Homo sapiens: one gene and its partners. The protein of the gene in region 2 interacts with the protein of the main gene of each other region in a pairwise test. Each region holds a gene or a part of one and is shown on either strand. Other genes may lie near its edges.

The links.
Region 1: the proteins of MOB3C (region 2) and PTPN21 interact in binary tests that used the Homo sapiens proteins (3 or more experiments, as listed by UniProt).
Region 3: the proteins of MOB3C (region 2) and NT5C2 interact in binary tests that used the Homo sapiens proteins (3 or more experiments, as listed by UniProt).
Region 4: the proteins of MOB3C (region 2) and IKZF4 interact in binary tests that used the Homo sapiens proteins (3 or more experiments, as listed by UniProt).

What each region holds. Positions count from the first base shown.
Region 1 is NC_000014.9:88,467,541-88,475,093, forward strand, and holds part of PTPN21 (tyrosine-protein phosphatase non-receptor type 21), read right to left. Parts: intron 6,263-7,553; coding exon 6,125-6,262; intron 4,926-6,124; coding exon 4,704-4,925; intron 2,811-4,703; exon of another isoform or gene 2,511-2,810; coding exon 2,382-2,510; exon of another isoform or gene 2,328-2,381; coding exon of another isoform or gene 2,307-2,327; intron 2,194-2,306; coding exon 1,959-2,193; intron 1,537-1,958; coding exon 1,376-1,536; intron 726-1,375; coding exon 597-725; 3' UTR 1-596.
Region 2 is NC_000001.11:46,607,144-46,614,289, forward strand, and holds the end of MOB3C (MOB kinase activator 3C), read right to left. Parts: intron 6,229-7,146; 5' UTR 6,179-6,228; coding exon 5,761-6,178; intron 3,062-5,760; coding exon 2,859-3,061; intron 2,542-2,858; coding exon 2,512-2,541; 3' UTR 576-2,511; downstream 1-575. UniProt on the Homo sapiens protein: May regulate the activity of kinases.
Region 3 is NC_000010.11:103,092,118-103,099,670, forward strand, and holds part of NT5C2 (cytosolic purine 5'-nucleotidase), read right to left. Parts: intron 6,868-7,553; coding exon 6,814-6,867; intron 5,972-6,813; exon of another isoform or gene 5,931-5,971; intron 5,258-5,930; coding exon 5,174-5,257; intron 3,864-5,173; coding exon 3,822-3,863; intron 2,339-3,821; coding exon 2,231-2,338; intron 1,922-2,230; coding exon 1,855-1,921; intron 1,193-1,854; coding exon 1,022-1,192; intron 1-1,021. UniProt on the Homo sapiens protein: Broad specificity cytosolic 5'-nucleotidase that catalyzes the dephosphorylation of 6-hydroxypurine nucleoside 5'-monophosphates.
Region 4 is NC_000012.12:56,023,889-56,031,441, reverse strand, and holds part of IKZF4 (zinc finger protein Eos), read right to left. Parts: exon of another isoform or gene 6,447-7,553; coding exon of another isoform or gene 6,389-6,446; coding exon 6,284-6,388; intron 4,662-6,283; coding exon 4,401-4,661; intron 3,663-4,400; coding exon 3,495-3,662; intron 1-3,494. UniProt on the Homo sapiens protein: DNA-binding protein that binds to the 5'GGGAATRCC-3' Ikaros-binding sequence. Transcriptional repressor. Interacts with SPI1 and MITF to repress transcription of the CTSK and ACP5 promoters via recruitment of corepressors SIN3A and CTBP2.

The DNA of each region.
Region 1 (7,553 bases), on a different chromosome or scaffold from region 2:
ATGTTTCAAAATAACACAGATTCTCAGTATAGTTTTCAGTTTGGCAACTAAACCATTATTAAGTACCCAAGGTTTTTAAAAAATAACAAAAGATAATAACATGATTTTTAAATACAAAGTTATATAGGAGCAACTCATATCTGTGGATCATCCTTACACAAAGTTGTTTCTCACTAGAAAAATCCCTAAATATTTGTCATAAAATAAAAACTCCATTATCAAAAATTAGTTTAAGATAGAAATCTATGCACTTTAATGATTGCCAGAATTGCCCAGCATAGCTTCAGTAAAATAGAGAATTGTCTAGAAAATACAATCTCCAAAATGTGTGCAAGTACTGCAAACCGGACAGACCGGGGCAGGGCAAGGCCCTTGAAACCAAGTCCTCCTTGAGCACCTTTCCCAGGTTAGAAACCCCTCTTCAGCCTGTGCTTCGCACGTTTCCTTCAGCGTGCCGCCATTCAGACTGCGCCACTTACGTCCCAGTGCCACGCTGCGTGGATCAAGTGTCAACGGGAAAGTATGAGTTAGGCAAGCGCTTTTTTTTTAAGCTGTAAACGCTTCACATGACTGGCCCCGTAAGAAATTGTGGGAGCTTAGATGAGCCTGGAGCTTTTCAGGAACTGGATGAGGACTCTGTACACAAATGTGTACTGGCAGAGAGTCTGCACCAGCATCATTCTCTGTTGCCTCAGCATGTCCAGCACTCTCGGGATGTCCAGCACCTAGGTTGAGAGAAACGGTAATGAAGATAATGTGTTCCCCTGGGGAGACAGAAAGGATGGGAGGACACGAGTGTCCTGGCAGAAACCTGGTTGGGAGATGGACAGTCTCTTTTCCACCTTAGCGTCTTCTAGAAATAAGCCATGATTGCCTACTTCTGATTTTCTGATTAGTTTTAGCTATAAATAGAATGTCCATGCAGACTATTTCTTCAACATTCCCCAGGTGTAGCTCACTGACTTTGTATGGTTGGACATAATTACCATGTCTCACTAAATACCAAAATTATACAAAAACATAGTGTGCTAAGTGCTATCAGTATCTAGCTATTTCCCTCAAGGGCTCTGGGCAGCATGAATCATCCTTGAAATGTAAACAGAAAAAGAATTCTGAGCTCAAATTTGAAAAACCCTGGGCAAGTAAAACAAAATTAAACAGCTTTATTTATCGTATGACTTCTTAGTCTTTAATATGCTAATTGGTACTGAGACTCTCCAAGAAGACACAGCCTTTTGCAGGGAACATTAGTAACATCTTGAGGCCACCACAGTCCAAGGAAATGTGCGCAAAAAGAGCTATTAAGTCACTATGTCCCTCTCTTCCCCAGCCTCATTTCCACCCAAAAAGGCCAGGTGATCATAAGCGCCATCACCTCATTGTGTTCCAGGCAGGCGATCATGATCTCCGACAAAATCACCACGCCAGTCCTTCCTACCCCAGCACTGCAGTGGACCAACAACGGAGGGTTGGGGCTTTGGGGATCACTTGTGCTATTTGTATGGCGTCGAACAGACTGGATCTCTTCAAGATATGCTGTGGAAAATCAATGAAATAGAAAAGTACTCAAGGATCAAGGCGTATCACATTGTTGACTCAATCTTCATATTCTCTCCACTGATTAAGAGGACTGCAGATAAAGAGCACTGGGTGCCAGTGAACCAAACCCAACCACAAAGGGACAGTGTGACCCTGAGCAAGTCACTACCTCTGTCCACTTTCTGATCTACAAAATGAAATGACGGAGATACTGAGTCAGCTGTGGCATTCTACTCACTACCAAATCATAATTTATAAACCTCGTTAACCCTCCCCAAAACACTTGTATTCTTTATGTTAAAACAAGTCCGAAGCTTATATGAGATAACATAAAGGAAATATTTCGGAAACATAAATGTTCCTCTCTGTTTAACACCTCCAGAGGCAGCTGTCCTCGGAACAAAGTTAAAGTCACTCACATAAAAATCCCTTGAGGTCTTCTGGACAGCCATGTTCAGGCCAGTCTGTGTATTGGAGGTGCCAGACGGTCCTCTCTTGCCCAGTAAGGAGGTGCTTCATCTTCAGGCCTGTGGTGGCATAGCAGCCAGAGTCTGTGCGGAACCGGGTCGTGATCTTAAACCTTCCATAGGTGACAGTGTTGTGCCTGGAACCAAGTCGTGGCCAGTACCTAAAGCTCTTCTCCCTTCCACCCTCCTGTTAAAGATGAGCATGGTTAAATGACTCGAGATCCGGCAATGGATGCCTTTCTCACATAGACGGCACATCTGAAACAGAACCACAACCCTACCCTGCCTTTTTCTCCACAGGTCAGGATTCCAGATGATTAACATTAACTGTTCTTCAGAGGCTGAGAAAATCACTTAAGAGAAATAAGTACCTACCTCTTCTGCTGTCACCATTGCTATAATTGCAATTCCCTGTTCCCATACCATCTGCCAAAAATCTTGACAGGTATTCTGTAATGGTCCCTGTGTGGCAATATAATCCCATTCGATTCCACTGACAGAGACCTGGGATTAGAAAAGGTTAAAAAAATTGATGTGTGGGTATAATATACATAGGTATGTATGCATGCATTCATGGTAGTACTAAAAAAGTTTTTTTAAAAAAGTAAAAAGTAAAAAAGTAGTAAACTGGATTATTCAGCAGAATAAGGAAAGACTTTTCATCTTTTCCCTTGTGAATACAATTTGCATTACTGACATTTTTATAAACTTAGGTACTGTGAATATACATAATATCTATGCAACCTGTTTAACCTTGCTGAATGTCAGTTCTCATTTATACAATAAAGATACTGCCTACCGTCATAGGGTCATTGTGAGGACTGAGTCAGTATCTATGGTACCTGGCACATAACTCAATAAGTAGCTGTTATTGCAGACATGGTGCCTCTTCTTTAAAAAAAACCTTCCTACTTAAGATAGTCTCACCTCTGAACTTCTGAGTCAAGGTCACTCTCCACAATAATATTAAGTTTCCACTTCAGATTTAACTTCCTTGAGAGCAGTCTAATACAACAGTAATTACTAGATTTGTGGTTAAGAGACCTGGGTTAAATCTTGGCTTCACCAATATTGAGTGACGACAATAACTGTCTCCAAACACTCACTAAACGTAAAACCCAGTGCCAAGCCTTGTGCCACACGCACTCTCACTCAGGGCTGCCAGCCCCCTAGTCACCGCTCCACATCGTCTCACTGAGCACCCAGTGGCTGCCACTGTGGATGAGTACCAGGTTATAACAGTGAATAAACACTAGGGAGGAGGAGGGGACTAGTGAGAAGCTGGCAGGGTAGGTGTCATCATTTATTTATTTCCATGTAAGTGAGATGAGGTCCCACAACACAGCTTATAAAGTGAGGTCCCACCTCATTTTAGATCTAGGCGTCAGACCCAGGTCTATCAAATTCTTTCCTCTATTCTGCAAGTGGCTGCTGAAGATTTTGAAATATCACTACAGAACTACAGTATCATTCATTCTTATCCATCTAGTCATGAGAGACTGGATGAGTTATTTCAAGGAAATGCTCGGTTTTTAAGTAAATTATGCTGATATTATATTTAAAAACAAAATAGTATGTGCATAGATTCCCAAAAGCCATCAAGGGGTACTGGCATTCACAGGCAGACTGCCAGTCTCCAGAAAGCCTTGGTGTCAGCTTGTTCCCTTCTCAAATAATACTTGCAAACTAAAGAAAAAAACCACCACCTGTCCACAGTTACTCATTCACTCACCATGAGATTTCTCCTTCCCAAAATAAAGAATTGAATGTGGCCAGCATGAACAAAGGGTACAATGAGGAAGAGGGAACATCTGGCTTTATTCCATCATGTGTTGTGAATCATCATTTTGTCCATTTTCATAGGAGTGATATTACCCCAGATAAGGTGCCAAGAACATACACTAGGGAAGGACAGCCTCTTAAATACATGGGACTGGGAAGACTGGATATCCATAAGCAGAAAAGTAAAACTGGACCCCCTATCTCTCACCATAAACATTACCCCAGTTTAATGGCATTATACTGGTTCCAGGAAAAAAGCACTTCTTCAAAGAAAAAAAATGATACTTAAAAATTATTATAAAGAGTATGTAAAGAGAACAGATGGCACCTTGGTAAGTTGAAAGCTTTTGTGAACACCATCAAAAAGCCCAGACACTTTTGTTACATAAAAATGCATGTCAGTATGTGATGAGGAAAAACTAGCAATTCAGTGGCTCCCAGAATTTATGAGCTAAAAAGAGGTCTTCAGATTTAGAAGGACAAAGTTCTAAAGCCAGGCAACACAAGGTCAAGGCTGTAGGGAGCCATGATCATACCACTGCACTCCACCTGTCTGGGCGACAGAGCAAGACTCTATCTCAAAAAAGGCAAAAGAAAAAAAAAAAAGCCGGGCAAATAAGTGCGCCCTGAGTCCTGGTAACAGTGTTGGGGGCAGAGTGGTTTCGCACATGGAGAGTAGACATGACTTTGGCTCTGTCTGATAGACGCTTTTTATCTAGCACTGGTATGTGGATTTCCCAGCTTGCAGTACAGTTTGTCACAAATGTTTAAAACTAGGGTGTTTATCTAAAACAATACAATAAAAATAAATTTTAAAATATCTGAATTCTAAACAGACATGAATACAATTCTTACCATTCTTGTAACTTAACTGAAACTGCATGTGCTGTTGATTACTTGAGGCGTTCCTCTCACCTTAATATGTGATGCGTTGATGTAACCAGTGTTGTTTTCTTTAGTTGGGACCAACTCCACTCTCACATCATCATAAGGAAGAACATCTTGGAATCGATTTCTTTCTGCATTTTCAGGGAGTCGTGCTGTTGAGCACTCCCCATCAACTAGCCGTTTCTTAAGAATTCTTTCATATTCTGTGAATACCATTCCTTGTTCTAATCGTTGTTCCAGAATTTTACACTATAAAACAGAATATGTGTAATAACATGAATACAGCCACACGTCGTGGCTACCTTTTGACTGTATATTTGAAATCTTGTTTTCTGCTTCAAATCTAGCACTGTATAATATTGAAAATTCTAGGTTGGGCACGGTGTCTCATGCCTGTAATCCCTGCACTTTGGGAGGCCAAGGAGGGAGGATCACTTGAGCCTAGGAGTTCAGGACCAGCCTGAGAAACACAGTGAGACCCCGTCTCTGCAAAAAATTAAAAAACGAGCCAGGTGTGGTGGTGCATGCCTGTGGTCCCATCTACTTGGGAGGATGAGGCAGGAGGATTGCTTGAGCCCAGGAGGTTGAGGCTGCAGTGAACCATGAGAACCTATCTCAAAAAAACCAAACCAAAACCAAAACAGAAACAAAATTCTAGGTGAAAATGAAGTTAAAATTTTAAAAAGCCACAACAACAAGAGTTAAAAGAACAAAAGACAATCATTTTGGTGAGAAATATAATGCAAACTTTTGTTTAAAGTTGAAAATTGGCCTAAAGAAATTTGTTGAATTCATTTTCTCTAGATCTGTGGTCAATTTTGTGACCCCTAATAGATGGAATTCTCCTGGGGAACAGTAAGTAAATCTAGGGGACGGATAATGAGTTCCAACAGCTATGAACAAATGTTTCCATTTTATGTCATACGATATATAAAAGACTAAAGCAGTAGGAAATATTCGAAACTACCTCCAGGATCCCGTTGTAAAGCAAATGTATGCCTATCTGATTTTGATGTAATAAAACCTCATAGAAAATACACCTCAGGCACAAAGGAAGTTTTGAAAAATTGAGAAACTACTCTCGAGATAAACTTTCAGTATAATAAAAGTCAATGTCTGCTGCTTTTCCCCTGTATGCTCCTGTATTTTTGTAGATTTCTTCTCACTTTAAGGCCATCAAAATCAAGACTGCTCCAAAAGGCCAGGAGAAGGTAAAAAAGAACACTGAGAAACAAACAAACAAAAAATCAGCATTCGAACCTGAAATTATCTATTAAGACATTAGCTATACATTTGCCCCAATTTTGAGGCCCATATTACAAAATTCCTTAACACTCATTTATTATTAAATTGTGTTAGAAAATTCACCAAAATCTCATGAAGGCATTTGCGTAGTATTTACCGGTTGTTCCAGAGAAGGCACAAAGCCCTGTGTGTCCCATACATACCCTTTCATCATTCGTTGCTCTGGTAGCCACTTCCTTTCCTTCATCAGGCAGAGGCACTCGAGATAGGGAGAGTCCATTTAGGGCAGCCAGTTTAAGAGGACCAATTTTTTTTGCATCTACTCGAGTCTTTTTCATTCCCTGTAAAAGGATTTATATGTATATATGAAATATACACAAATACAACCCCTGTGAAAAGAAGTTTCAATGCACTGAAGACCAGGAACACACAGAGGGAGTGTTCTCCTTTGCCAATAAACCCAGAAAGATTACACTCCTTCACACACCACTTGTTTAACAAACATTAGTAGGAAGACATTCCTTTCAAGGCCAAAGCCCTGATAAAGTCTTCCAGATAGAAGGTTTTGAAACACTATTGGTTACAAAGTTCTGTTGTAATGAAAGGTGAGGCTCCAGGCAGACTGCATTCCTTTTAAAACAAGACAGACGTAACAAATCAGCTGAAGTCCAAAAAAAAAAAAAAAAAAAAAAAACAAAAGCTTTAAATGCAATCAATTGACTATAGTAAGCTTTTATAAATTTTTTTTTTGAGGGTCTCACTCTGTCACCCAGGCTGGATGGAATGCAGGGGCACCATCATAGCTCACTGCAGCCTCAACCTCCAGTCTCAAGCAATCCCACCTGAACCTCCCGAGTACCTGGGACTACCAGCACATGCCACCATGCCCAACTAATCTTTGTGTGTTTTGTAGAGATGGGGTCTCACTATGTTGCCCAGGCTGGTCTCAAACAACTGAACTTAAGCAGTGTTGGCCTCCCAAAGTGCTTGAGATTACAGGCGTGTGCCACCATGCCCGGACAGCTTTTTATAATTTTTAAAATATATAAATTCTTTAAGTCATTCTGAAAAATTAAATGGTTTCTGCAGCAGCCCCCTTTGTGTGTTAAGCCCCCTCCTCATATGCTACTCTGCATTCTAGTGCAGACTTAGATGACCCGGGTTAGATCACGCTACCTCTCAGAACGGCTACGTTTTTAAACAAGGAAAATAAAACAGGGCTAAAATCTCCATCATGACACCAGGAGGATAGGACAGAAGAGAAAGCATCAACAAAATCTTGTCTCCTGAAATCAAGTGTTTCCTAAAATTATTATTAGAGCATGATTTTCCTCTCTGAGAATAGTAAGCATAAGAACACTAAGTTGACCAGGTGCGGGGGATCACGCCTGTAATCCTAGCACTTTGGGAGGCCGAGGTCAGGAGATTGAGACCATCCTGGCCAATATGGTGAAACCCCGTCTCTACTAAAAATACAAAAATTAGCTGGGCGTGGTGGCACATGCCTGTAATCCCAGCTACTCGGGAGGCTGAGGCAGGAGAAAGGCTTGAACCTGGGAGGTGGAGATTACAGTGAGCTGAGATCGTGCCACTGCACTCCAGCCTGGAGGCAGAGTGAGACTCCGTCTCCAA
Region 2 (7,146 bases):
GGTAGATCACGAGGTCAGGAGATCGAGACCATCCTGGCTAACGCGGTGAAACCCCGTTTCTACTAAAAATACAAAAAAATTAGCTGGGCGTGGTGGTGGGTGCCTGTAGTCCCAGCTACTCCGGAGGCTGAGGCAGGAGAATGGCATGAACCCAGGAGGCGGAGCTTGCAGTGAGCCAAGATCGCGCCACTGCACTCCAACCTGGGTGACAGAGCAAGACTCCATCTCAAAAAAAAAAAAAAAAAGAAAAAGAAAAAAAAGAATAGCCAATGCCAGGCAACCTGAGATGAAACAAGGAACGATTCCTATCAGACTGAGTTCCCGGAAGGCAAAGAAAAGCCAGGCTTCTCCACCCCAAGCGTCCTAGCCTAGCTCGGTCTAGAATTTCCAGAGCCCCAGGAGAATCTTTGTGTCCCCACCCTAGAGAGCTGGGCCAGACATGACCACACCAGCCAGCCCTCCACATGGTCCAGTATCTCAGGACAAAAAGCCTTCCCAGCCCCATTCTGGCTCAGTTCCTTCCATGGTCTGCCAAGAGCCATGTGGCACCCAGATCACCGCTTCCCACCAGTGGCTGCTTTAGTTTGCCTTTTATTTTACCAAAAATAACAACAATAAAGTCTTCCCTCTGTTTCATAAAAATAAATTTTCCAACCCTCCCCCTATCCCAGAAATCAGCCCTTGCCACAGCCTAGAATCCATCATGCAAGTCACAGCACTCTGGGAAAAGCTCCTACTACCCTCGCTCCACAGCCTCTGGCAAAGCTGCCAGGCCACTCTGGAGGCGGCAGAGGCAGAAGTCCCAGGCCCAGCTGGCTGGGCCCAAGAGCTCCATCTGTTTCCCCAAAGTACAGGCAGCTTCTAGGCCATTGAGTGGGGCATGATATTGGATGCTTGGCTCAGGAAACAACCCCAGCCAACCCAAGGGGCAGTGGGACATGTTGGCCTCAGGTTAGAAATTATTGCTCAAAGCAGAAACAGTTGTGTCCTAGAGAGGGTCTGTTAAACCCTCTTTCCATGTGTATCTCTATGTAGCAATTGATGGGCCCTGCGGTCAGGATCCCTGGTTTCTCCAGCTCCATGAATGCCTCCCTGTGAGGCCCTGGACAGTTTCTCCCTCTTCTTCTCCTGGCTTCAGTTTCCCCGTATGTACATTGAGACAGTAAGACTGGATGATTCTCAGGTTCCCTCTGGCTTTCCATTCTGGCATCCCAGAGTGGAGGCTCTGGGAGGGCAGAACCCTGTTCCTGCCTCAGTTTCCCCACCTGTGGGTCTGCGTATAGGGCTGGGTATGGAGGTACTGAGTAATGGAGTGCTGCGTGAACATCCCAGTCTCCCTGTGGATAGCTGTGCTGTGAGATCCAACTGGCTGGAATGTGTCAGGGATGGCTGGGAAGGAGGCAGGTACTTTTAGGATGGAGGATCTCCATGCCTGGAAGAGTCCATTCACCAACTACATCCTCAATGTGCTGGGATGGGAGACAAGACTCCAAAGTTCCCAATTCAAGTTCCACAAGCTCCTTGGACGGGGAGATTATTTTGTGCTGGGCTTCAGATCCGAGGAGCCAGGTCTGTAGATTCTGGGAGCTAGAGTGGAGTATATGATTCCCAGATGAAGGGCCAGGGGACCTTTGTGTACTTGAGGGATCATCTCCAACCCCCAGGAGGACACGTATAATACAGGCCTTCTTGGAGGCAGAGGGATGAGTAAAATGTCAGCTCATGGGCATCTCTGGGTAAGAGAATCAGAGCCTGTGTCTGCAGTGGGTCGGTTTAGGAACTCAAGGCAAGGCTCCTCTTCCTACGTTCCCCCAGCTCTCCAGGACTCATGCTGATGGAAGAGTGTAGCCTGGAAGGTTTGAATGTAGAGCAACATCTACAACCACATTTTTGTGCACTTACACACATGGTCAGATACACTGAGTGGGGACGCTGAGCTGTCATCACTCCTACAGTGGTCATGGTCTGATGGTCCCATGGTCTGATGGTCCCAATCTATTTATCCATCCATCCAACATTTATGGAAGGCCTACTATGTGCCAAGGAGGGGTAAGGCAGCTAGCTCTCACAGACACACCCCACAGTGAAAATCACACACACACACACACACCCCGGCATCTGTGCTCACTCACAGGCAGACTGCTCACTTTCTTGCACCTTTCTTGCCATCACCTCGGCCACACCCACATTCCTCCAATAGGCTTGGGAACCAGCATGGAAGGGTCAAGTGTCATAGAAGAAACCCCCTAGCCTACCCTACTCCCAGACTTCATGCCAGAGGTTTAACTCCACTTCCCTTCTGTTTGCCTGCCTAGATGCTCTCCCCTTCTCCATCCACAAGCGGTCAGGGCGACAGGTAGGCAGACTCCTGAGAACCAGAAGTCCAGAGGCTTTGGGTGTGTGGAGTGATTCCAGTGCCTTCAGATTCCTTCAGGCTCCTGGGGGTCCCCTCTGCCAGCCACCCTATGTTCAGATCGTCCATCTGATGGCCAAAAAAGTCCAGACCTGGGCTCAGTGGCAGATCCGCTCTGTCATCTCCCTCTGTAGAGACACAAGGTAGGGAGGGGTCAATTAGAGCTCAGCCTACTAGGCAATCCCTTCCCAAACCATAGGGCCTAGCTGCTCTTCTGTCTGAGCCTGGCCTTCCCCCAGCAACCCCAACTCTTAGGCTGCAGATCTGGGTTTGTAAACCAACACTTGAATGAATTCTCTATTGAAGTACAGAATTCACTGTTAAATGAATTGCCTTCCCCTAATTCATCTACTTGGGCGTTGGAGTTACTTAAAGCAGGCAGCTTTTGGACGTGAAAACTCAGAGGCTAGCCTTGGTAGGGGAGGGTGGTAGGGCTTGGCCTCACCAGTGGCTCCAGCTCCCGCTGGTCCACCAGACTGAACTCGCGGATGAAGTAGTAGAAGTGCTTGTAGCAGGTGTTGACGTGCGCCTCTGCCCCCATGCTGAGGATGCTATCGAAGTGGTGGATGTAGACATGGACAAAGACTCGGAAGAGGCGGGTCAGGATCTTGGTGCAGACCTGCTGGAAGTTCTTAGGGAAGGGAACTCCTAGAGGGCAGGGGAGGGCAGAAGGGGATCAGTATCCTGGTGCCAAAGCTCTGCTCAACTTTTCCCTCCCACACACAGGCAACCAGGATGGCTTTTTCCCCAGCACACTTTTTAGTACACTTCCCTTTGGAAAACAGAGAGTGGTTTGACTTTCTCCCATACTTTTCTTTCTTTCTTCCTTTCTTTTTTTCTTTCCTTTTTGAGACGGAGTTTCACTCTTGCCCAGGCAAGTGCAATGGCATGATCTCGGCTCACTGCAACCTCCACCTCCCAGGTTCAAGGTATTCTCCTGCCTCAGCCTCCCAAGTAGCTGGGATTACAGACATGTGCCATCATGCCCAGCTAATTTTGTATTTTTAGTAGAGACAGGGTTTCTCCATGTTGGTCAGGCTGGTCTTGAACTCCTGACCTCAGGTGATCCACCTGCCTCGTCCTCCTAAATGCTGGGATTACAGGCATGAGCCACTGTGCCTGGCCATACTTTTCTTTCTAATGAAGCACAAATCTGACTGTGGCTCTCCCCTGCTGGAATATACATCATCTTCCACATTTTCCCATTACCTAAAGCAGGGCTTTGCAAACTTGTGGGGGTCACTGACCAACCCTTTTTAGACTATGATAAAAGTTACGACCTAAACTCTCCCCAGAAATATGTGCAATTGCAGAGATGCTCACATCACACTCTTGTATACAACTCCAAGGAGAGTTCAACAACTGGGTCCATTTAAAAAATCCCTGGGCCTTCAGGATTAAGTCCTAACTTTCCAGCAGGACGCTGCTCAAGGCCTTTCATGATCTTATCCTGACCTCCCTCTCTAGCCCCACCCCATGTCCCTCCTCTTTTCAACATTCACACAGAAGTCCTCAGACCCCCAATCCTGGAAATTATGAATTCTGCAAGAGTTAGTTCAGACAGCCCTCATTCCTTCAAATATTCAACAACACGAAGAACCTTCCATTTATGAGCAAGGCCTTGTGCTGGGCCCTTCACACCTTTTGCCTCTAATCCTTAGAACAATTCGCCTGATGTGTCTGATTGTCACTTTAGATATGATAAAACAGAAGTGCTTATAAAGGTGAAGCTGCTAGCCCAAGGCCACATAAGTATTAATCAGTGCAGAATGGAGACTGGATTCAGACCCTCTTTGCAGTGCACTGCAGCGACCCTCACAGATATTGGGACCCATGAAAAAGGCCCCGCTTCTGCATAGTCCCCCATGCTCAAGGCAGAGATCTTGGTGGCTTATGCCCTCTTCTCTGTGTGGCAGTCACCCAGGGTTTTAGGCATCGATACCTGGAGTCCCACAGGCCCAGGGAGGTATGGCCAGCAGGGACTATGAATCTACATTCAGGTCCACAGCTGGCCCACCCGGCTCTGTAGACCCCCTCCTCTTCCTCACCATTCCCAGGTGGGGTCGAGCCTTCCCTCCCTCTGAGCCCCTCCAGCCCAGCCCAGATTCCTCAGACATATCCTGCCCATGTAGACTTGGGGTCCTGGGCTCCCACAGATCTGAGCCCCAGTTCGGAATTCCTCCCAGTTCAGTGCACTTTCCCTCAGTAGCCTCAAGTTTCCTCCTATGTAAAATGAAGGTGCTCCTTGTCGGGCATGACAGTGCAAGAAACAGCAGGCCACTGGCTGGGGAGGAGCCGTGGGCATTGAATTGTGACTCAGTGCCCAGCTTCCTTCAGCATTCAGACTTCTCCCCTCAGGGCTTGACCACCCTGCCCCACCCACCGCTGATCCACACAGCCTCTGCAGAGATGAGCTCCAGGCCAGGTGGGGGCTGGGCCCAGCTACAGGTGCGGCTGGTGTGATGAACACAGTGTCATGCCTGCTCAGCTCCTGGACCAACAACCCCCTCCTGCTGCCCTCGGGTGGGTAAGCAGTGCCTGGGTGACATCACTCATCTCCCCTCCCTACCCTCACCCGCCCAGGCTGCCCAGCTGAGATAAGAAAAGGCCCCACAGCCTGTGCCTGGCAAGGGAAAATTCTGTCCTCAGAGCCCCAATCTGAGGTGATGATACCACCAGGGCCCACCCAACCACCAACTCCCTCCTTTTCCTGAGGCCAGGAGTCAGAGGGAACCCCGGGAGGCTGGAGGTCAAATCAGCTATGAACACCTCGGGGCAACTGTTCTGGAAGGTTCTGAGAATCACAGCATCTGTGGTCTTGCCAGAGTGGTCCTTGGTGGGACCACTTATGCTTTAGAAAAGAAAAGCCCTCTGAGGTGGGTGGATCACCTGAGGTCAGGTGTTCGAGATCAGCCTGGCCAATGTGGTGAAACCCTGTCTCTACTAAAAATACAAAAATTAGCCAGGCGTGGTGGTGGGTGCCTATAATCCCAGCTACTCAGAAGGCTGAGGCAGGAGAATCGCTTGAACCCGGGGGGCAGAGGTTGCAGTAAGCTGAGATCTCACCACTGGGTGAAAGACCGAAACTCTGTCTCAGAAAAGAAAAAAAAAAAAAAAGAAAGAAAGAAAGAAAAAGAAAAGAAAGAAAAGCCCCAAATTGGGAGTCAGGAAGTCCTAGCAAATGCTTGACCTTGAGCAAGGCACTTAACCTGTTTCAACCTCGCTTTCCTCTTCCACAAAATGGGGATGAAAATCAACCCCCAACCCTGCAGAGTGTCTATATCAAACTAAATCCTCATCTGTGGAATGGGCTCCCAGTGGCTCCCTCCCCGCCAGGTGACACTCACCAACACGCGTGGGAAAGACCTCTTCGTCGTTGATGAGGCCTTCGATCCAGTCCATGAGCAATGCCATATAGCGCGGCGCAGAGAGCTTGGCGGGCCGCCGGTACTGGCGCTCGTCCTGCCAGCGGTACTCGTAGCGGGGCCCGCCGGCCATGACCGGGCAGCTGGTCTCACTGCAGCGCTCCGCCATAGTGCCGTAGATGAGGTTGATGCGGTTGAAGAAGTCCACCACGTGCACGGCGATCCAGTCGTCGATGTTCTCCCCGGGTGGTAGCCTCACCACACTGCGCAGGTCCAGGCCCGACTTGAGAGAGGCCTGTGCCTTCTTGTACAGCTCAAAGCGCTGTGTGCCCGGCTCAAAGCGCTTCCGCGGCCGGAACGTCTTGTCCTTGGCGAACACCTGCTTCAGGCACAGGGCCATGGCCAGCTGGGCCTGGGGCTGCTGTCCAGGGGCTCGGACCTGAGGATACCCTGCCAGGGACAAGGGCATAGGGGAGCTGGCGGTCAAGGCCTTATCATCTGGGCTCTGACTTCCCAATTCATCATTTCCCTGTCACCTCTCAGCCTTTGCTCAACCTCTGCATCCTCTGCCTGGAATCTAAGTCCTCAGCCCCTAGGTCCAGTGCCCCGCCCTCTTTCCAGGCTATGTTAGTCCCCCTTGCTAAGCCCCCACAGTCCTCCCATCTTGCTTTGTCTCTTTTCTGCTTTCATTGCAGAGCTGGGCCTGGGCTCTAAACAGGTGCCCCTCAGACTTGCTGTTGGTCACGAGAGAGGTCGCAGAGGCTCCCTGCAGGCCCACCAGCAGACAGGGGCTTGGACGAGATGACCTCTGGGAGCCCCCTTGGCCAGCTGGTGCAACGTGGGAGAGCCTCGCAGCATTGTGCTGGGGGCAGGGTGGAGGGGGGTCGGGGGTGGCTTTCGGCTTCCTCTGGGATATCCCGTAGTCCATCCGGCCACCGGGGATTCCCAGGGAGCAGCAGGGAACTTTTCTACCAAAAATGTCCTTTCCTTTTTTTTCACCCTGAAAGAGGAAAGGGCCCTCCCGCTGCCAGCTGGGCGGCTTCTGAGTGTGGCTGCAAGCACTGGAGGAGGGGGAGGGCGGCAGGCCAATGAGGGCGTCGCTTCCTCTGACAACAGCTGGAGATCCTTCCCCTCAAGCCAGCCTCCTCCAGCCCCAAATCTGAACAAGCCACTGGCTCCTCCCGTTGCACCTGACACTCAGTAGACATTCCTCTAGCAACTACTATGTGCCTGGCACTGGGAGGTAGAAGAGTATAGTCAGATGCACCCAGGAGGGCCCATCTAGAGCTCAGGCAAATTTACTTTGCCTCCTAGAATTTAAGGATCCCAGATTCAGAACAAATTTTGGGAGACAGTGATCAGGGCCCT
Region 3 (7,553 bases), on a different chromosome or scaffold from region 2:
CAACAGCCAGCATCTACAGCATGCTGCCGGTGTGTTGCAGCCTTTGTCAGTCTGGGTTCCTCAAGACAAGCCCTCCTTCATCTACTGTATGTAACACATTTTCTTCTATCTACCATCTTTAGGAGAATTGAGAAAAGTGTTACTCAAATAATTTTCTGTATTCAGCTCCATTGGAAAGGTAAAATAATAGTAATAATTTTCTGTGTTTCGGATATGGAGCCTTGGTTGAGAAAGGCTGTCATGTCTATCTTTATACACATATTACCTCCGTTTTTCATCAGCTTTAGGAGGTAGGTATTATCCCCATTTTTACATTTGAGGAAACTAAGGCACAGGGTATCTCATTAACTTGCCTAACGGCATGCAGATTTCAAGTTATGGAGCCAGGGCTCCTACCCCAGGCAGGCTGAGTTTCCGGAGTCACCTTCACCACACTGCAGGTAATGCGCATCAAGGCTGGCTGGAGAACTTGTATATCAAGCACTTTTACAGAACTATATCCGTAACTCAGTTCAGCACAGTGTGTATACTGCATATACACAGCATAGCTTAGTTCAAGAATACAATATGGCCTCATTCTCTAGATCTCAGAAGAGTAAATAAAAAATACCAGAGGTGATTAACATTCAGAGCCATCACTGCCCCAGAATCACAGATATGGGCTGTTAGCAGAGAGACTGGGACTGCTAGGCATGGTTGGGGAAATATGGGACCACAGAGGAAAAGTTGAGCTCCAGTTCACAACTTAGTGTTACTGTAACACAACTCAAGACGCCAACATTCTAAACTTAACCTCGAAGAGATTCAAGAAGGTTAAACAAGATAACCTCTCATATTTATTCAAATTCTGGAGTTCTGTGAAATATCTGAATATTCTATGGGAAGGAAGTATCCAAATATCAAGGCCTGCCTTTTGACCACCTCTGACTTCCTGAATACAAAGTAATGGTTTATCAAAGACGACTGATTCAAAGCTGGTCATTTAGATATAAATTACACCAAAGATTTATGAATGGCTTACAACTCTTGTCAGTCCAGACATGTAGCTCCTGTGCGAGTTCAGGAATCACCAAAAAAGTTCGCCACCCTTGCCGTTTCTTTGATTTTAAAATGTCCCCAAAAATGTGATCTCCAATATACAAAATGTCTTTTCCCTTGGCTCCCAACAGGTCACAGATCGTATCAGAAGAACCTGAACCAACAGAGTGAACAATGAGAAAACTGTCCCTATATTAAAATCAGCATTCCAATAGTATTTAACCATTAAATACTATGATTCATTTTATTCTTATATGAGGAACAGACTAGGAAGAATAGACAAAGACTCACCATTCTCTTTTTACTGCCTTCTAAGACAAGGCCTTCAGCTCCACTGTGCTGACCAGAGCTCTTGCTCACCAAATCCAAGAGCAACAAAACTACATCCTCAGCTTAGTGAAAATAACCTTCAAAACAGCCACTGCCAATTTCATCACAAATCTGCCATTAAGCTGGCTTTACTCAACTGTTTATAACTCCAACATACTATGTACCTATACCCATGGAACTCCTTGAGAAACCCTTGAGAACATATTGAGAAGTACCCCCAAGTGATTCGAAGCACTGAGAAAAAGCCTCCAATAGGATTTAAAAAAAAAACTGATCATTTTAGTGAAAATCAGATTCATTAGGATATACTAACAACTGCTCAAACCCAGACTCCTATTGCATTAAGAGGTGACTAAACTATTTACCTTCAGTAGATGACATCTTAGACTACTAAACAGTATATGTGGCACTTTGCTGAGAGATTACCAAAGCTTTCACTGTGAGGTCTGAGCAAAGACATTAAATAAAGGGAAGTCTGTGACTTACCTCCTGAGTAGACGATACCATGCTGTAGGGGCCCTGTGTAGGTACCAATTTTCAGCTTGCCAGTTTTCTGTATGAAGAATATGGATTTTGTAATACTTTATCATCCTATCACAATCCTCCCCTCACCCCACAACCCTCCCATCCCACCCCCCACCACCAGTGCTACTTGGCCAGACAGCCAAATGAATGGCACTTACTCTTTTCAATTAGTGGGTTTGTTTGACTGTTTCAGTTAAGACCAAAACTCTTAATTTCAAAAGAGAGATACGGCTAATTAAAAAAAAAAAATTCCTGTTTCCTTATGTAGAGTAAGAGTGGGGGAAGGAGAAACATTAAGGACAATGTGCTAGCAAGACAGATCATTCTCATGACTTACAGTATCCACCTGACGCAGTACTGTGCCTTCTCCAAAAAAGAGTGGTTTCCGTGCATCCACCAAGATCAAGTCAAAGTAGGACTGCCATGGTCGATGGGAGCTCCCAGGCTGGTGAAGGAGAAACAGCAAAAGTTGAAACATCACTCCTTACCTTAAGGCATTACTATTTAATCTCACTCAGATGCAAGGAATATAAAAATACTAAGTATAGCCAGAAGATCCCACTATTTTATTTTTTAAAAAGGTATTGTGTCAGCCAGGCACAGTGGCTCACACCTGTAATCCCAGTACTTTGGGAGGCCGAGGCGGGCAGATCACAAGGTCCGGAAATCAAGACCATCCTGGCCAACATGGTGAAAACCTGTCTCTACTAAAACTACAAAAATTAGCCGGGCGTGGTGGCGGGCGCCTGTAGTCCCAGCTACTTGGGAGGCTGAGGCTCGAGAATCGCTTGAACCTAGGAGGGGGAGGTTGCAGTGAGCCGAGATCGTGCCACTGCACTCCAGCTTGGCAACAGAGCAAGACTCCATCTCAAAAAAAAAAAAAAAATTGTGTCTATGTATTATAAGCCATATCCTTTGGGAAGCAGACAAGATATAAATAATAAATAACTGTAATAACACATTCTATACATTAAATCATTTCATCTACTACTAAATTACAATACTTATTTTACAGCACTTTATGAAAGTGTGCTCACCTGAAATTTGCTAAAAGGAGCTCAAAAGAGCTAGGGAGAGATGCAAATCAATACCCAAGGGACAGATTAAGACAGAGGCAGGCATCAGAGCTAAAGTATACAAACTAACATGGAACTATTAGGAAATTTTACTGGTTACATTCTCAGAATGATGGCTCTAGGTACACACTGGCTTTTGGCTCACAGTGTAAGCTAATCACAATACTGAGTTATGCCCATTAAAATCATGACTATCCTGAAATGGAACCCTGGCATTAACCTTTTAAGACCAACCTGAAGGGCACTGCACACTGTGATTTCAGGTGTTCTCAAAACAGGGATTTGCTGATGTTTATTCACTAAAGTCTAGGACTAAAATTCTGTAAGTATGTGACTAAGTTGCAAGGAGTATTCCTTAAACCTAAGTGCAGCCGTACTGCAGAAATGAAGACTTCTCTGCTAAATATCAAGGCTGAGTGCTCTCTTGGCAAAAACTTAGCAACAACTAATACAAAATCTAGAAGTTGTCAAGAATACACATACATTTTCTGTTTCTGTTAATCAAATATCATCCACAACCTGAAAATTCCTTTCATTGCCACACAAACTTAATTTTGCATAGAACTTCTTGGGCATAAAATTATTCTGATCCCATCCTACTAAATATCACATGAATATCCCTTTTATTTCTGTCTATTAAGTATTCAAGTTGCGGACTCTAAATTAGCAATTTGATTTTAAATTCTACTAGCTCCTGGATTACTTCTAATGTTAATGAAGATTAGACAATAGGCTTAAAAAGTAGGACTTTTCTGGGTGGGTTCTGACCAATTCTTTCCCCCTTAATATTCCAGAATGATTAAATGCATTCATTGTTATTAAAGCAGTGGTCTATTGAGTCACATACGGTACCTTGGGGCCATGTGGGAAGTCAAACAGGTAAGTCATAATTTTCTGGAAAAAAAAATTTAACATAAGGTCCATATACTACTTTTGCAAAAGGTATATAACCTAAAGAAATTACAAGCTTTTCACAAAACATGTCTTTTTCAACATAGGACTCACCACATTCTTGTTTCCTCTAAATTTTATGAAATCATGGCAGTGGAAGCCAGAAATTAATGCTTTACCATATACCAAAAAGAAAAAAAGGCTTCTGACATTCTCAGGGAGGATACATACTTCCTCTGGAAGATGTTTTTGAACACACATTTGGAGGAAAGGAGCATATGAGGTAGGGGTATAGAGAAAACTAATGACTCACACAGAAATAACCTATCACCTTGGCTTCGCTACTGCCATCCCTAGACCAACTAAGTCAACAAACCAACGGTTTATGTAAGACTGTTTACTACAAATCACCAGGTGTCTAAATCAAGTTTACATGTACAGCGAATTGGGGGAAGTGGAACTTCTTGCCAGTACTATAAATTTTTAAGTGTCTCAGCAAAAGTAAGATGAAGTTAAGGAGTTAGATCAGTTTTTCCACATGCTTTAATCATGGGAAAAAACTGTTTTTAAGAGGTAGTAAATTTTGGGCTGGGCACAGTGACTCACGCCTGTAATCCCAGCACTTTGGGAGGCCAAGGTGGGTGGATCACGAGGTCAGGAGTTCAAGACCAGCCTGTCCAAGATGTTAAAACCTCGTCTCTACTAAAAATACAAAAAAATTAGCCAGGCGCAGTGGCAGGTGCCTGTAATCCCAGCTACTTGGGAGGCTGAGGCAGGAGAATTGCTTGAACCCAGGCGGCAGAGGTTGCAGTGAGCCGAGATCGCACCACTGCACCCCAGCCTGGGCGACAGAGTGAGACTCTGTCTCAAAAAAAAAAAAAAAAAAAAAAAAAAGATATATAAATTTTGACAGCTAAGAGCCAAAACATCTGTGCAGCATCTATTGCTGCAGGTCTTCCAACAGCAGGGAAAGTCATACATACACATCAATAAGGGGTGTGACTGCTCAAGTTTATAGAAATGATGCTCCAAAGAGACACAAAAGCCATTTTAATCTTTACAAATGTTTTAAATAACCCCAAGATTAAAATTTTCAAGTAGCCAATTATAATCAGTGAAAATGGTTAAAATAAATTTCTAGAAAAATTTGAGAACCACTGTTATCCTGTATATTTTTGCCTTTTTACTCTTTGAAAATGAGAAGGCAAGAAACTATTTTCACTTAATAAACTTCTATCTTCCTCATTGTCTTCACAGTTCTTTAGGCCAAAATAATTCCACTGCATAAATAAATATACACATGAAGCACTTACATCTGTATATTTATAGTCACTGTTGGTAGCAAGAAATACTTTCCCTACTTCCTTCATCCGGCTCAGAAGCAAAGGCAGTTTTCCCTGAAATGTAATTGGATAATGAGTGAAACACGAAAACATTTTTATCTTTACACTTTGGAGTTGTCAAATACTGGATTTCTGTCCACAACAGGAATGGGGGAACCTTTTAAGGGTTAGCTGATTTCAGAATTTTGCACTTAAAAGCCCACATTATCACTATAAATGAATAAAGTATTAACATATGTAGTATACACAGTGTATGTAATAGATTTACATGTAAAATTATACACATATTTATAGGGGTTATATGGCTGTTAACAACATATCTCTACCTTCCTCATGATGTCTGCCTCAGGAAAGAGTTTAAATTACCTTGAGATTTCTTGAAGTATGTGAGGTGTGTTAAAGGTCAGCAGAAGCTGATTTAAACATGCTCTACATAGAGATTATTAGATATGGCTTTCAGTGTGTACACTATGGTTTTATAAAACACCTTGCAGAATGAAATGACATGTGCAGATGCTACCTAGAAATACCCACACCCACGTGCGCTTAAATGAGGAAATTCTAACCCCTCATGTGCCTGGAAAGAAAAATATCTTTTCCTTCTCGCATAGCAAATAGATTCCTTCACTCAAATTCTCCCGGACCCTCCCCATTCAGTGTTCTTTCTTGAAATAAGGGAGGTGGGTGAAAATAGGAAGCACAAAAACTGAAAACAAGAAATCTTTACCACAGTACTTTGAGAAAATACTGTATTCTGCTACTTTTACTCTGTAGGAAAAGAAAGAAGTATGTCATCTTGGGGCACTATGTGTGTTTAATTTTTATTCTAAAACAGTTCTAGACTTATAGAAAAGCTGTGAAAATAAAGAGTTCCCATATATTCTTCCTCCAGTTTCCCTTAATATTAACATCTTATATAACCACAGTATAATTATGAAAAGTATGAAATTAACATTGGTACAATACTATTAACCACAGATTTTTTAAAAAATTTTATCAGGTTTGCCACTAATGCCTTTTAAGGTACTTTAAAGCTTTCCTCATTACTCTCTGTTGACAGGTTAAAGGCATTTTAAATAACAGTAACATATATGCACATTTTTGAGATGATCTAGTGCAGTAGTTATGATTTGGGTGTGACTTAGCTTTACTACTTACTAACTGTGTGACCTCTGGCAAGTTATTTAATCCCTCTATTTCTCAGGTTTTTTATCTATAAAACAGAGGCAACAATAATACCTAACTCAAGGTCATACAGAAGATTAAATGGCATAATGCATGTAATCACTTAGCATGGTGATGATGTGCATACAGTAAACCTCTAACTGCTATTATAATTGAAGCTAAGCGAACAAATGCAATACTGAGTCTTCTTGCCTATCAAGAAACAGGAAAAATGAAATACTGAGTCTTCTTGCCTATCAAGAAACAGGAAAAACTCTACTAAGACCTATGCTCTAGCTGAATATTCTTGGTGATTATACCCGACACATACTATGCCAAGACAAATCTCTTCTTTTGTCCATTTCATTATAAATCAGCTTGTTATTAATTTCCCTAATAGGTAAAATGAGCTATTATGCAGATCTATTTTCCCCTATATTACTTACATCTTTGACTACATACTTCTCAAGATTTTCAACTGTCTTTTCCTTAAGGGAGCCCTGGAGGAAGACAAAAAAAAGAATTAAGAAAAGAACAAAATCAGTTTTTAACATGTAGTTTATAAGAAAAATGGTTTTTACTAATCAACCCAAATCCTTTCTTTTTTTGAGACAAGGTCACCCTGTTGCCCATGCTAGAGTGCAGTGGTACAATCTCAGCTCACTGCAGCCTCGACCTCCCCAGGCTCAGGTGATCCTCCCACTTCAGCCTCCCAAGTAGCTAGGACCACAGGTCCACACCAACATGCCTGGCTAATTTTCTGTATTTCTTGTACAGACAGGGTTTTGTCATGTTGCCCAGGCTAGTCTTGAACTCCTGAGCTCAAGCAATCCACCTGCCTTGGCATCACAAAGTGCTGGGATTACAGGCATGAGCCATCATGCCCAGCCCCAAATGCATTTCTTAAGGATTTACCAAAATGGAAAAGTGGACAAACTAGAGAAGGCCAGAAAAAAGTAGCAGGTATGATTTGCTGCAACCCTGCCTCTAAAATTTGTCTTCAAAATATAAAACAGTTTCTATTTTAAGTTTGAAATTAAAAGGCATTTCATATTTTATTCAATAGTTTATAATACATGTAAATTTAATATTTATTAATGTTATTAGTCGGGTGGGAGGTATCTGGACAAAAAAAATGGACCACTGTCATCCACAAAGGATATGTTAAGTATAATGTAATACACTA
Region 4 (7,553 bases), on a different chromosome or scaffold from region 2:
TGGGAGAGGAATGATCCTCCAACCGCTTTCTTTTTTTTCAAATTTTAATTGATAATTGATACATAATAATTATACATGTTTATGAGATACATATGATATTTTCATACATGTATACGACATGTAATGATCAAGTTGGGGTAACTGGCATATCTGTCACCTCAAACATTTATCTTTTTTTCTTCTTTTTTTTGGAGACAGAGTCTTACTCTGTTGCCTAGGCTGGAGTGCAGTGGCACGATCTCGGCTCACTGCAACCTCTACCTCCTGGGTTCAAGCGATTCTCCTGCCTCAGCCTCCCAGTAGCTGGGACTACAGGCGCCCACCACCATGCCCAGCTAATTTTTTGTATTTTTAGTAGAGACGGGTTTCACCATGTTAGCCAGGATGGTCTCAATCTCCTGACCTCATGATCTGTCTGCCTCAGCCTCCCAAAGGCTAGGATGACAGGCGTGAGCCACCATGCCCAGCAAACATTTATCATTTCTTTGTATTGGGAACATTCAAAATAATCTCTTCTAGCGATTTTGAAATATACAATAAATTATTGTTAACTACAGTCATTCTACTATGCTGTGGAACACTACAACTTATGCCTCCCATCTAACTGTAATCTTGTACCCATTAACCAGCCTCTCGCTATCCACCTACTCCCAACCCTTCTCAGTCAGCCTCTGGTAACCACTGTTCTACTCTCTACTTTTTTTTTTTTTTTGAGACGGAGTTTCACCCTTGTTGCCCAGGCTGGAGTGCAATGGCGCGATCTTGGCTTACTGCAACCTCTGCCTCCTGGGCTCAAGGAATTCTCCTGTCTCAGCCTCCCGAGTAGCAGGGATTACAGGCATGCGCCACCACGCCTGGCTAATTTTGTATTTTTAGTAGAAACAGGGTTTCTCCATGTTGGTCAGGCTGGTCTTGAACTCCTGACCTCAGGTGATCTGCCCGCCTTGGCCTCCCAAAGTGCTGGGATTACAGGCGTGAGCCACCGTGCCTGGCTTTTTTTTTTTTTTCCCCAAGATGGGGTCTCACTCTGTCACCCAGACTGGAGTGCAATGACATGATCACAGGACACTGAAGTCTTGACCTCCCAGGTTCAAGTGATCCTCCCTGTCTCAGCCTCCTGAGTAGCTGGGACTACAGGTGTGTGCCACCACACCTAGTTTTTGTTTTTGTTTTTGTTTTTGTTTTTGTAGTAGAGACGAAGTCTCACTATGTTGCTCTGGCTGGTCTCAAACTCCTGGGCTCAAGCGATCCACCCGCCTTGGCTTCCCAAACTGCTGGGATGATAGACGTGAGCCACTGCACCCAACCTACTCCGTGCTTCTATGAGATCAACTTTTTTAGCTCCCACATGAGTGAGAACATGCATCCAGTCTCTTTTTTCTTATAATAGGGGTTGCAACAGAAAGCACTTCACAGAGATGGGACCTGACAGTATATCTGTGTCTGCTTCTGTTGTTAATAATCTACAGATCAACATCCAAAATCTACCCAGTTCACCTCACTGTGTAGTTGGTAAGAATTCTAGGGGCCAAGCCATCCTTGTTCCAAACCAGCAGGGGGAGCAGCCCCTTTTCTGAGGAAAAGGAGTATGTATTTCTGGCACTGGACCTTGATGGGGTTCCAGCTAGGCTGAAGAATAGCTATGTGACCCGCAACTCATTTTTCCCCCCAACAGCTTCATTTTCCTTGTCAACAAAATGGGGATAATCACATCTACCTTGGAATTGTTATGAGGATCACATGGAGAAACACAAGTGAAATGCTCTGTAGATATAAAGCATGTATCAACGATGATCTTTCTCCCTGTTTCTCCACATACATAGAGATAAAGAGGTCCCAATTACAAGGTGGGAGAACCTGGAACAAGGTAAGTGGATGGAGAAAGTAGAGGGTGATGAAATGATTGCTCTGTCCCTTTAAATCCTGGCTCAGGAGAGTTTAAGAAGAGAAAAATAGCCAGGAAAGTTTCCAAGGACAGACCCTACTAATTCTTTCCCCCTTCCTTTCTTCCTGCCTTTTCCCAATCTTGAGCTCCCTCCTTCCTGCCAGCTCAGCTCCTGGCCTCTTCCCAAGTCCAAGCCAAAAGCCTAAAGCTTAGTAAAATGCCTAAAAAGTGCTATCTGTCCAGCTGATTCAGACAGATACTGATTCAAACAGTCTTGACTGGGCTAGAAAACCTTGTTAATCCAGTTTCCCAGCACTGTTCCAAACATTGATCTCTAGGTACCCTCTGGACTTTCTCTTGCCTCTGGGAAGGTGACAACCTCTTGGGATAGGGAACAGAAATAGGATACTCTTTTCCTATTTGGAAGTCCTAGGCTCCCTTTTTTGCAATTTGAGAGGGCTATGGATATTTCCAGGAGCCAGAAGGAAGTAAAGGAGAGGACAGACTGGTTGCTCAAGACCTCTGGTGGTGTGGGAGGAAGGAGGGTGAAGATGATGACAGGTGTGGGGCCTGAGGCAGATGGGAGTGAGAGGAGGGATTTCCCAGGGGCTTAGATGTTGGGGGTAATAGGGCATGGATTGTGGCATCAACAATCTAAAATATAAAAGTCAGGAAAGCCCAGGCACAGTGGCTGACACCACGCCTGTAATCCCAGTACTTCAGGAGGCTGAGGTGGGCCGATTGCTTGAGATCAAGAGTTCAAGACAAGCCTGGGCAGCATAGGGAGATCCTGTCTCTACAAAAAAATAGAAAAATTAGCTGGGTGTGGCAGTATCCTTCCAGCTACTCAGGAAGCTGAGGTGGGAGGATGGCTTGAGCTCAGGAGATCAAGACTGCAGGGAGCCAAAATTGCACCACTACACTCCAGCCTGGGCAACAGTGTGAGACACCGTCTTGAAAAAACAAAAAACAAACAAAAGTCAGGGAAGGGTGACTTTTTTTTTTTTTTTTTTTTTTTTTTTTTGAGACTGAGTGTCGCTCAGTCGCCCAGGCTAGAGTGCAATGGCGCGATCTCAGCTCACTGCAAGCTCCGCCTCCCGGGTTCACGCCATTCTCCAGCCTCAGCCTCCCAAGTAGCTGGGACTACAGGTGCCTGCCACCATGCCCGGCTAATTTTTTTTTTTTTTGTATTTTTAGTAGAGACAGGGTTTCACCATTTTGGCCAGGATGGTCTCGATCTCCTGACCTCGTGATCCGCCCATCTTGGCCTCCCAAAGTGCTGGGATTACAGGCGTGAGCCACCGCGCCAGGCCAAGGGTGACCGTTAACAGCCAAGAACATTGCTCCTATTCCTTTTGCTCCAAGTAGATGGATTTTACATCCATATGGTGGATGTAAAATACCCCATCAAGGTGTCTCCCAAATTTCCCATGAAGCCTTGCTGCCCAGAGGATGGGTGAGAGAGGCAGGGGGCCCTATCTGCTCTGTAAATGCTCCCCCCTCCTCAATGACAGACACTGGAACTCCCCAAATACAAGAGAAGTCACTGAGCTCTACATACTGGGTGTGTTGGAGCCTCATTCCCTCCTCCCACTGGACAGACACTGACCTGAGTGTGTGCGGAGGTGACCAGTGAGTGCATCACGCCGGCGGCAGGCATAGTTGCAGAAGGGACATTTAAAGGGCTTCTCCCCAGAGTGCAGCTTGATGTGGCGCAGCAGGTTCCCCTTCTGGGTGAAGGAGGCACCACACTGGTTGCAATGGAAGGGCCTTTCACCTGCAAGTGAAAGAACAAATCCCAGAGGACTGCATGTGAGGAACTTTGAAGGTTGAACCTATCACCCACCCTCTGCCCTACCTTGCCCAAGGGAAGGTGCTCTGAACACATTGCTGACGGGCAGAAGTGCAATGCACACAAACCCTGATTTATGAAGATCCCTTGGGGATCCCTGGGGTCTTACCCTGGGGAAGGTGTGGATTAGAGGTGTGTGGCAGGGAGAGGGGCCTGGAACACGAGGCCAAAAGACTGTTACCAAAAACTGAGCCCCACAGGGCCCACTCTGCCCTAGGAGCCCAAGGCCCAAGGAAGCTGAGAAGAGAAGGCTTTTGTTTTCTGTTTTGTTGTTGTTGTTGTTGTTGTTGTTTTTTAATTATTAGATGGGAGGGCCCAAAGAATACCCAGGAGTCTTACCCCTATTGGACCATTGGCTCATTCTTGAGTCTACACTTTCCCCTCCCTCATATACTGAGAAAAATATCACCTTTTCTTTATAACAGCGGTTGAGGAGAGTGCCAGGAAACTAAAGGTATTGAGGGGAATTCAAATTCTGTACCCACCCCCACCCTGCCTCGTTTTGTCAGCTGGAAAATGTGCTGGGTGAGACCCTTCCCTTTCTGAGGCTACCCACTCCCTGCATGACCTCCTCCAGCCCCATACCTGCTGTTGTCCCAGCACTGCCCCTGCCTCTCAACCCCACCCTGGGAGCTCCTCCCAGAGCCCCTCTGGCTTACTTACCAGTGTGACTGCGCTTGTGCACCATGAGCACGTTGGGTCCAATACAGACCATGCCGCAGACGTCACACTTGAGCTTGCCATTGGGCAGCCGGATGCCCCCAGGGGAGTGAGGCTCTGGCCCACTCCCATCACAGTAGCCCAGGGGCTCAGACAATGAATCTTCCACAATCACGCTGTCGTCCTTTTCCAGGAGCCGCTCATCTGGCCCCAGCAGTCTGCTTGACTCCTCATCGCTGTACATCTCCACCTTGATGGAGTTGGCTGAGGGGTGGGATGGTGTTTAGAATAGAGAGAGGCAAAGGGGGAAGCTGCTCCCAGGCCAGAATGGCACTCTTTTTTTTTTTTTTTTTTTGAGATGGAATTTCGCTCTTGTTGCCCAGGCTGGAGTGCAGTGGCACGAATTTGGCTCGACGCAACCTCCACCTCCCAGATTCAAGTGATTCTCCTGCCTCAGCCTCCTGAGTAGCTGGGATTACAGGCATGTACCATCACACCCAGCTAATTTGGTATTTTTAGAACAGACAGGGTTTCTCCATGTTGGTCAGGATGGTCTCGAACTTCCAACCTCAGGTGATCTGCCTGCCTTGGCCTCCCAAAGTGCTGGGATTACAGGTGTGAGCCACTGCGCCTGGCCCAGAATGGCACTCTTAAAGTTTAAGAGGGTGTCTTTAGGCCCTGAGACATTCAAGCCTTAAATGGAACTAACACCCTAGTATCCCTGCTGCTGATATCAGAATCCTACTGGAACCTGAGACAACCTTTTCTCCCACCCACCAGGCAAATAGGCTTCAAGAGAAAAAAGTTGGGCCGGGTGTGGTGGCTCACGCCTGTAATCCCAGCAATTTGGGAGGCCAAGGCGGGTGGATTCTTTTGAGGTCAGGAGTTTGAGACCAGCCTGGCCAACATGGTGAAACCCTGTCTTTACTAAAAATACAAAAATTAGCTGGGCATGGTGGTGTACGCCTGTAATCCCAGCTACTTCGGAGGCTGAGGCAGGAGAATCGCTTGAACTTGGGAGGCGGAGGTTGCAGTGAGCTGAGATCACGCCACTGCAGTCCAGCCTGGGCGACAGAGCAAGACTCCATCTCAAAAAGAAAAAAGTTGGGGGTACATAGGATGTCTTCTGTCGCTGAGGAGAGGAGGCGACTAAGGGGAGCTTTTTTCTCTACTCTCTTGTCATGAAGAAAGATGTCTGGCTTGGCCCTGGGCAGGAAGCCAGCAAGTTAACAGTGGCGGGAAAACAGATCTAGGAAGACTGAAGGGGGACAACAGGCCAAAGAGAGCAAACCTGGAAGACAGACATGCTTACAGTTCCCTCCCACCTCATTAGATTGAATCCCTCTACCCCCTCCACCTCCATAAAACTCTGAGGCAGGGCAGGAGGGGTAAAGGAAGGAGGAACCATTGAGGAGAAGGCTTTGGCTCTAGCTCCGACCTACATTCCTGGCTACTCCAACCATTTAGAGAATGTCACAGATCTAGGGCCAGCTGGGGAGAGGCAGTCATGGGGACCCTGTCTGGGTAGGAGAATGAGCTGTGGGGAGATGGGGAGGTCCTTCTACTCTCTATTTCCTATCTAACTCCATCTGATGACCATTTCTATCTACCTGCTTCTCTAATTCCATAATTTCTCTTTGAAACTTTTACCTTAATCCCACCCATACCTCTTTTAATTCCACCCTAGTCTGCCAGTGACTGACTATTCACTCTCCTTTCAGAAGCCAGAAAAACCCTAGACACTGGGCTCCTCATTGCTCTTAGAGACTAAGCAGGAGACCAGCAGGAGGTGACGATGGGGAAATGGTTGCCAGTGGAAGGTGAATTGAAGGCCAAATGCAACAGGGGGTGCCTACTGCCAGGAGGTGGTAGGAGGTTACACTTACCACTGAGTGAGCGGCTAGGAGAAGAGTGCTGGCTGTTGGGGGTGCTCACCGAGGGCCCCACTGGGGCCCCGAGGAACTCCTTCTCCAGAGATGAGTCCCCGCTACCTTGGAGGAGAGAACAAGAGGGCAGGTAAAGCTGGAGCTGGAGATATCTACTGTCCATTGCCTAATCTTTTAAAAAAATTCAGTTAAATTTCACAAACATTTCCTTCATAGCCATGTACAAAGCAGTGTTGTATGCTGGGCACCATACCTTGTGCCCCCGCCAGTCTGGATGCCTGGTGCTGCCTTCTGTGAGCTCAGTGGCTGGGCCTTGCCTACCCTACCTTTATCTAGGCCTGAGGGCAAGAGCATCACTGCCTGACGTCCACAGGAAGCAGGGCTGAGGCTGGGTGCGCCAGGGCGGAGAGGAAAATGGGGGCTGCAGAAGGGACAGATGTTCAGGACAGACATTCTTCCCTACTGTTCCTCTCTGGAGCCCCCAGCCGGTTCAGGATCTGCAGGAAAGGTAACTGGAATTGTCCTTGAATCTAATGATAATATTAGTAATCATCATAGCAGCTAATAATATTAATTGAGTACTTACTATGTGCCAGGCTTTATTCTGTGCACTTGAAATGAATAATTTCATTTAATCCTCACAACAACTATATGAAGTAGGTGCTAATATCATGATTTTTTCAGATGAGGCAACTGAGGTACAAAAGAGGTTATGTTAGTTGTCTAAGGTTACATAGCTGCTAGTGTGGAACTGGGATCATAGACAGTAAGCGTCCATGTCCTTAACCAGCACCTACACAGCCAATTGGTGGTCACAATCTTAGTAGGGAAGAATTGGGCCTCTTAGACTTTCTAAATTCAGCAAAAATTTGATTACTCTAGAAAGTCTCCTACTGATCTGATTCCAATCACGTGTTTACTATTTGATATTCATTGACAGTTAAGTGATCAACTTATTCTCAGTATATTTGTTTTAATTTTCTGATAAATTGCTTTGTAAAAATGCTTTTTGAGGCTTTCATAATGTTTTTCAAAATCAGATAACATACCTAAAGGAAGATATGAATGTCTTTTTTAAAAAAATCCCTCCTCCCCACAATCTTCTACACAAATATATAGGTGAAATAAAAATACATGTAGATAAACACACACAGAGACACAACACATATGTAGATACATATAAAGAGAACATACCTATTGGGATAAACATACTGGTAGCCTTCTACATTATCTGCTAACATGAACATGCATGGATGTGTGCACACAGGCC